2 separate regions of the Homo sapiens genome follow, and region 1 is linked to region 2. A link means that fine-mapping ties the variant in region 2 to the expression of a gene that starts in the linked region. Tissue or cell type: subcutaneous fat. Region 2 holds a variant in brackets; the other region holds the start of a gene. All regions are shown on one strand. Distances are between the middles of the regions.

Region 1 (4,359 bases), 75 kb after region 2:
ACAAAATGCAAATTGATTTATAATAGATAAAATAGGTAATGAACTATGAGAGTTAGGCAAAATCACAGAAGGTACCCAAACATGGAGAAAATCGCTTTGGCAAAAATTGAAATATTTTGCTAGCCTTAGTTATTTATTATGAAGTTGTTTGGTACTAAAGATGTTAGCAAAATTTACAAAAAGGAAAAAAAAACAGGCTGATCTAAGATGGGCTATTGACTTTTTTAAAGTATATAATTTTTTTATTTTTATTTTTAGAGTTAAAATACATTCAAACAATGCAGCAAAGTGCTATTCCAATAAAATCTTTGGAATTTAAGGGAAAAGCAAAAACTTTTGTAATTTTGACTAGGAAGAAGAAGTTCATGTCTAAGAATCTCAAAAACAACTTTGCGTGTGTGTGTGTGTGTGTGTGTGTGTGTGTGATCTCACTCTGTCACCAAGGCTAGAGTGGTGCAATCACAGCTCGCTGCAGCTTCAAACTTGGGAGCTTAAGCAATCCTCCTGCCTCAGCCTCTGGAGTAGCTGGAACTACAGGAGTACGCCACTGTGTCTGGCTACTATTTTTCTTTTGTTTTTTTTTTGTTGTTGTTATTGTTGCTGTTGTTTTAGAGACAAGGTCTAGCTTGTTACCCAAGCTGATCTCCACCTTCTGTCTTCAAGTGCTCCTCCCAACTTGGTCACTCAAAGTGCTGGGATTGCAGGCATGAGCCACCATGCCTGGCCTCAAAAGCAAATTCTAATGAAAATATTTTCTGCCCAGTGTTTTTCAACATAGGGTTTGACTGAGGAGACTTTTGAAAAACTTGAGGAATGTATCATTGTTTTTGGTTTGCTTTATAATATGCTAGTATTGAAAAACTCAGAAGATGAAAAAATTAAGAAATACCATATATATTGTAAATATATATTGTATATATATAGAAAGAGAGAGAGACAGAGACACAGAGAGAGAGAGAGCTCTGAAAGAAAGTGGAAGTCATGATATACATTATAAGAAAATTTAAACTAGTTTTAAGAATCTGTGATAGTGATTTGTCATAACTGATCACATTCTAATGTTTTAACATGGTATGAAACATTTTTGGTTCATTTCTGAATCTAAGTATTGCTTTAAGAACTTTTATTGACAATTTTAATAGCTACTGACTCAAAAGAATAGTTTTCCAACTTAAAATAAATAAAAATGTTATTTAATGAAAACTCAAGAAAGATTATCTTCTCATTAGCTTCATTAGAATGCAGATTATGTGAAAATTTTGATTACAACAATGATATGTGATTTTGCTGAAATAAAGGAAAGTAAATTTCACAAAATATTTAAGATAATTTGTCTTTATATTACCATCTATCCAAAATTGCTAACCCTTCAGCAGAACACTCAGATGTATAACCGTAATTGTTACAGGCATCTCTATAATCATAGATGTATACATGAGTTTCTACTTTGTATTAGAAAGGTATATTTATATTATAAAGCTACATTTATTATATTTTCAGTTATATGAAAATATAGCTTTGCATGTATTTTTTAATTTTATTAGGGTTGGGCAGGAGCTAGAGATAAAGGTATTGGAGTCATCACTTGGATTCATAGACATGGATGAGCCGTAAAACTAATGGGGTCCTTAAAAATTATGTAATATAACCACTTCCTCTTAGATATTATGCCAGATGGTTTAACAGTAAAAAGAAGGCCTATCATGACTAATTTCATTTTGCTCCTAACCCCATCACTGCAGTCATTTCTTTTAGGTTAACTGCTTTTGCTTATCTCTGCATGTAGGCAAAGCGAACTATGAGAGGTATTTCATTTATAGTTTAAAGCAAGAATAATAATAGTTTCTTTCCCAGCACTAACCCCCTGAGGAGATAAGAGAGGATGCATGTGACTAACAATGTTATGCTAAAGATTTATAGGAACATTGTGACCTGACTTACATCATCCAAAGCCAACTGATTGAGAAGAAAGAAGATTGAGAACCTCCTCGGACCCTCACTGCCACCCAGATGTCCGTGGTCATAGGTCTATTGATCTTAATGCCCTCCCTCTTCCCCTAACATAAAAGGAAAATAAAATTCCTGAAATTCATATTTACTTAAGATGTTGCTTAAGGACACTAGTTTGTCATCTTCTCGGTTTGCTGGCTCTCCAAATAAAGTTGCCTTCCTTGCCCCAACACCTTGTCTCTGTACGTATTGGCTGTCATGCGGTGTATTAGTTCATTCTCACATTGCTATAAAGAAGTACCTGAGACTGGATAATTTATGAAGAAAAGAGGTTTAATTGACTCACAGTTTCTGCATGGCTGGGGAGGCCTCAGGAAAGTTACAATCACAGTGGAAGGCATAGGGGAAGTAAGCACACCTTCACATGGCTGGCAGGAGACAGAGTGAGAGCAAAGGGGGAAATGCTACACACTTTTTAACAACAAGGTCTTATGAGAACTGACTATCACAAGAACAGCAAGGGGGAAGGAAATCTGTCCCCGTGACCCAATCACCTCCCACCAGATCCCTCCGCAAACACTGGGGATTACAATTCAACATGAGATTTGGATGGGGACATAGAGCCAAACCACATCATGCAGTGAGTGATTATGAGCATTGGATTTGATTACAATGGCATTATTGTCCTGTTCAAAATGATCACAACTTGTTTGAATCACAGCTAAGACTAGAATTCCTAGTTTTTTCCATATAATGTTTGAATATAGGCTCTAGATTTTGTAACTTAAAATTCTTGAAATTAAAAGAAGGATCCTCAATTAATATTTAAATTGCAAGAATAGAATGCCTTAAATTAATTAAAATATTTTAATGAAAAATTGAAACCTCAACAAATATGCCTTCAGATGTGTGTGTGTGTGTGTGTGTGTGTGTGTGTGTGTGTGTAATGCCCATGTTCCAAGGCATTTTATATCTTAAAAATTTTATATCTTGAAAATTATTTCTTGTATTTGACATCTGATTAACCTTTCCTCAAATTAAAGTGCAGTTGACCCTTGAACAACATGAGTTTGAACTGTATGGATCCACTTATAGATGGATTTTTTCTTTCTTTTTTGTTTTTGGATTGTGTTCAATTGAACTCAGATCAAAAATGCGTTATTGAGGTGATGCAAAACACATGAAAAATAGAAGGCCAACTTTTTGTGTACATAGATTCTGCAGGGCTGACTGTGATACCTGAGGATGTGTGGATTTTGGTATACTGTGGAGTGGGGTCTTGGAACCAATCCCCCACATATTGAGGGATGACTATAAGTTATTTAAAAAATAATAATAAATTAAATAGGAAACCACTGAACTCATTGAAAGCTTATAAGTATGCATCAAAGGGAGTTAACATCTGTGTTTAAGGGAACAAAAAGGTTTTTATTCAGTACACAGCAAATTTCTCTGCAAGCCAAGAAACCACTCTTCACCTCTGGTTGCCAGTATGGTCTGAGTTTGCTTGGCAGGACAAGGTCAAACCTTGTAGACACACAGGCAAGTTAATCTTGAGATGGGTTTTCAGGGGCCACACTGAACCATGCTGGGTTGTTAGCAGGACTGGCCCAGGTAAGTCCATTACAAGGAGTGAGAGCCAATGGGGACAAGGAGCAGAGCCAAATGACAGCACCAAGGGAGCAACATCAGCCTCAGATTTATCGGGCAAGCATACAATCGCAGGCAGGAGCGTAGGCCAGATGTCAGGAATCAAGAACAGGAACAGACCAGGATATGAAGGGCCAACAGACAGCAAGAAATGATAGGATCAACTCCAGGGTACATGGACACAATCTAATTTGGTGCTGGCCACATGAAGCCAGAGATGGTCAGATCAGCTGAGTTCATGGCTCAGGGCATGGTCAGACAGTAGAAATGTAAAAAACGAGAAAAAAATCGTAATGACCAACTTCTTTTTTAAAAATCAGGTCTCTAAATACACCTAAAAAAAAGATCTAGTTGGTAGCCATATGTGCCATCCCTATCCCAAAACACCCCCGAAAAGAAACATTTTAAATAGCCATTTGTGTAATTAAATTCTTCATGAATTAATTTTGCCAAGTTGGATTCTTTGCCTCACTGTATCCAGAGGATATGTGCAGAAACCTCAAATGCCCTTTCTCTTGTCCGAGAAAGCTCTTGGAATATGTTCTTTTCTATTGGCCCGGACACAAGAACACTTAAAAATAAATTCTCAATTAAAGATTATAAAAGACAATCTAGAAGATTTCACAACATTTCCTTGATAACAAGTAAAAAAATTCAAATGTTTGACCAGAGGGAAATCAGGATGAAAATGTCAAACTCACTACTCCGGAGATATGCCAAAATGGAATAAGATTTTCTTTTGCCTCAGGTAAAATTGTG
Region 2 (4,000 bases):
TAAAACCTTTCCACAGCTCATCCTTTCTTCCAGCCATTAGGTCCAGCACCAAATTCTTTCCTTCTGCCTCTCCATTACCAGGACTAGTTAGTGCTTTAATGTTCCTTATTATTCACGAATTATCTGACCAAAATAACCCAGTCATTGTTAAAATTAATTCCTCTGAAACGGTTTAAAAATACGGCACATAAAATTTAATTAGGCTAATAAATACTTGGAATATTGTTAAGATATTACAAATGAAGGATACAGGAACTTATGGTCTAGTGGGGAATTTACAGTCTAGATCAAAACTATAGCCGCCAAGGAAGAAGACAAAGCAAATGCAGCTTTGCCATTGAAGAGGCACAGAGCGCTGTTGGAGCACCAAGGAGAGAGATATTATTTCTGTCTGAAAGGAGAAGGGAAATGCTCATAAAGGAGGAAGATGGTAGCTAATTGAGATAACCACCGATTTGTGAACACCACTTCTTTGAATGATCATTATGAAAAATATCTATGAACTAGATTCTTCTCTACATAGAAGTTTGAACAAAGCATTAAATGTTGAAGGCAGGAAGTTACCTAAACTACTAAATAAAAATAATTTATTTTTGTTATACCCTGACGTCTGTTAATAACAGATAACACTTCCTTGAAAGTCAGAGTTTCAGTTAAATACTGGGTAGAGAGTGAATTAAAAAGCAATAAACAAGTAACCCTTGTATACTTACATAACATCGTCTTTAAAAAGAGTATCCAGTATCAAAGTCAAGTGCCAAGGCTAAGGGAGGCAGCCTGGTGCCCTGGAAAGGGCATACATAGGCTTTGCCTATGGAGAGACCTATGTTCAATTGCCGGCTCTACCATTTGTTAGCTCTGCATGCTTTGATTTGGGCACTTTATCTTTTTCTCAAAGTTTTCAATTCTTTTCCTATAAAAGAGAAATGTTTTTAGATCTTACTAATGCACACACCTAGAAACTTAAATTCAGTGTCTGAAAAAAAATCACGGTTTAGCCTAATAATTTTGTTAATTTATTTCATTTTCTTGAATTGTGGTGTCTGATGCCAACCTTTGGAAGGCTAAGGCGGGAGGACTGCTTGAGCCCAGGAGTTCAAGACCAGCCTGGGCAACATAGTGGGATCCTGTCTCTACAAAAAAAACAAAAAATTAGCGGGAGTGGTGGCATGTACCTGTAGTACCAGCTACTAGGGAGGCTGACGTGGGAGGATTGCTAGAGTTCAGCAGGTCGAGGCTGCAGTGAGCCGATTACAGCACTGTACTCCAGCCTGGGAGACACGAGATCTTGTCTCAAAATAAAATAAAATAAAATAATTTAAAAATTTAAACAAATCACTCTCTCCCTTTCTCTCTTCCTTGCTTCCTTATCTCCCCTCCCTACTCTCTCATTGTATTATATATGCTGCAATTCTATCCACAGGTAGACTAGCTTGTAATCCTACTTACTGAAAATTTTACTAATAAATTTCTCACATAATAATAAAAATAAGGATAATAAAGAACACCAAAGAATTAATACTATCCCCGGTAATGAAGAGACAGAAGGAAGCAATCCATGTCCCATCTGAGGGTTTGAGGAAAGAAGAGGAGGTATGGAAGCCTTCAGATGGGGCAGCAAGGTACATTTTTCACAGATCCTCTAAGGTTTTTAAGAGGACATATTTTCCCTAGAGATTCTCCAAGACACACCTGCCAAATACAAATTTCAAATTGCTCTCTATATGCTAGTGTTCCTGATTTGTATGGCTGATAATTGCCTTTTAAAGGGGCTTCATATTTAGGATCACACCTTACCTTCTCCACACCATGACGAACCTGGGGCAGTAAATATCACCACCCCATGTAGCATTTCATCAGCACACAATATCCATCCTACGCTGAGTTTTCCTTGGTGCCCAGCTAACTAGTGTTAGAGCCCAGCCTTAACTCAGATGTTGAGTAATTCCAATTGCTAGGCATTCTGACCTCAAGCTTGTGGGGTGCCCTTCCTGATCTTTCTTAATAATGACAATATCACCTACCTTGTCCCAGACAAAATGCCAAGTGCTTAGCATGCACTCTTGATTACCTGTAACCTCAATGCACATTAGGAAAGACTGTGCTTGCTTTACAGATGAAGAAATGATGAGGCTCAGATCGGTTAAGAAA[C/T]TCACCTTAGATTGGGTGTGATGGCTTATGCCTGTAATCCCAGCATTTGGGGAAGCCAAGGCAGAAGGATAGCTTGAGGCCAGGAGTTTGAGGCCAGGAGTTTGAGACTAGCCCAGGCAACACAGTGAGACCCTCTACAAAAAATAAATTTAAAAAATTAGCCAGGCATGATGGTGTGCCTGTAAGTCCCATCTACTTGAGAGGCTGAGTAGGGAGGATTGCTTGAGCCCAAGAGTTTGAGGCTTCAGGGAGTCATGATCATACCACTGCACTCCAGTGAGAGAAATTTGCCTTAAATCACATCGTTAGTGAATTCCAGAAGCAAAGTGCAAACCCAGGCACATTCTACATATTTCCCAAATGTCTTTTTCAAATCAATGTCACTGCAAAATAAGAAAAAATAAAAAACTAATGTCACTGCAACCTTCCTTTCCATTGAACTTCCATTGCTTTCTGTCTGAGTCTTATTTAGAAGGAAGTCTGCAAACTTCTTCCCTTCTCCACTCACCATTTCACTGTAAGGTCTTTATGACCAATAAATGACTTGCTGTATTTTTCCTACAATGCCTAGCACTGTAAGAGCTTAGACATATTTTTAAGTGATTAACACCATTTTTGAAAAGCTGTCCCAAAGAAACCAAAGCTAGGCCTGTGACTCCAGGTACTTCACTCCTATTGAAAAGTAGTAAATAATTAAGAGAAAGCATACAAATTAGTAGAATCTTAAATTTCCATAGGAGGCAAATAAGTAACCCCATTTTTATTTGCCAGTGAAGTAAAAAATGTGATCACTTACATGCCCATTTATGCCCACTCTTACCAAAATCTTTGAGGTGGCCCATCCATTTACGAAGACACAGTCTACTGTGAGTAGACATCCGCAGAAACTTCTAGATGATGATATTTTCCAATGCTAATTATTTGATAAAGAAGTTTAAAGGAACTCATAGTTAAAAACTCTTTGCTATTGTGAATAGTGCTGCAATGAACATACAGGTTCATGTATCTTTATAATAGAAGGATATATATTCCTTTGGGTTGCAGGAACATAAAACTAAATACTGCGTTCTCACTTATAAGTGGGAGCTGAACAATAAGAACACATGGACACAGGGAGGGGAACAACACAGACTGGGGCCAGTCAGGGGGTGAGGGTTGGGAGAACATCAAGAAAAATAGCTAATGCACACTGGGCTTAATACCTAGGTGATGGGTTGATAGGTGCAGCAAACCACCTATCAAACCATGGCACATGTTTACCGATGTAACAAACCTGCACATCCTGCACATCTGCACATGTATCCCAGAACTTAAAATAAAACAAACAAACAAACAAAAAACTCTTGACATGCATTGAATCAGTTCAGTCTCTTCTGTAGCTTTCAACCAGCTGCTGTGCTGGTTATGGCAGATCTCTCTGTGAATGTAACCTTCACGTGTTGCTGTTGTTGTTGTTGTTGTTTTCATTAATGTTCTTAGGAGTCTGCTGTTCTTCCTGGACACTCAGAGCAGGAACAGGAATACACAGAGCCTCAGAGTTGGCAAAGTTTATTATTTGACTATCCTTTTTCAAGGGGGGAGGTGGACTCAGGCTAACATACAATATCCTGTATCATAAAGTTCCAAATAGTAAGTTCCAAAACCAAATGAGAAGTTTTCATTGTTTCTTGAAGAAATAAATAAGATCACAAAACAGACAGCTTAATCTTTTGTTGATTGTTTGTATTTAAGGTAACATATTAATATAAATTCATCTCAAATATTTAATAATCCTTAGACACCAGAAACAGAATAATCTCTTCTTTTGATGGGGAGGGGCTGATATTTGGGTTGTGATTCACTGTCTTGG

Alleles and levels. Positions count from the first base shown, and alleles are read on the strand shown. Sizes are in standard deviations (SD) of each study's normalised expression.
For the expression in subcutaneous fat of the gene that starts at base 2,401 in region 1, C is the high allele of the variant in region 2 and T is the other (moderate effect, 0.60 SD a copy in FUSION).

Evidence for each region. PIP is the estimated chance that this variant, and not a neighbour inherited with it, causes the effect. A credible set is the group of variants that fine-mapping cannot tell apart.
Region 1: it holds the start of LINC02066, and the variant in region 2 is the best candidate, but not a certain one, in a credible set for the expression of LINC02066 in subcutaneous fat (FUSION, PIP 0.63).

The regions. Positions count from the first base shown.
Region 1 is chr3:151,550,199-151,554,557 of GRCh38, reverse strand. It overlaps LINC02066 (long intergenic non-protein coding RNA 2066), which reads right to left and starts at 2,401. Exons shown (of 5, transcript NR_183765.1): 1 at 2,297-2,401. It also overlaps a transcript of IGSF10 not described here.
Region 2 is chr3:151,625,479-151,629,478 of GRCh38, reverse strand. The region is part of intron 1 of LINC02066 (long intergenic non-protein coding RNA 2066); the gene reads right to left. It overlaps LOC105374157 (a long non-coding RNA gene), which reads right to left. Exons shown (of 3, transcript XR_924581.3): 3 at 3,866-4,000. Among named protein-coding and RNA genes, the nearest start is that of MIR5186, 61 kb to the right of the region's middle. The variant C/T (reference allele first, on the strand shown) is at 2,152.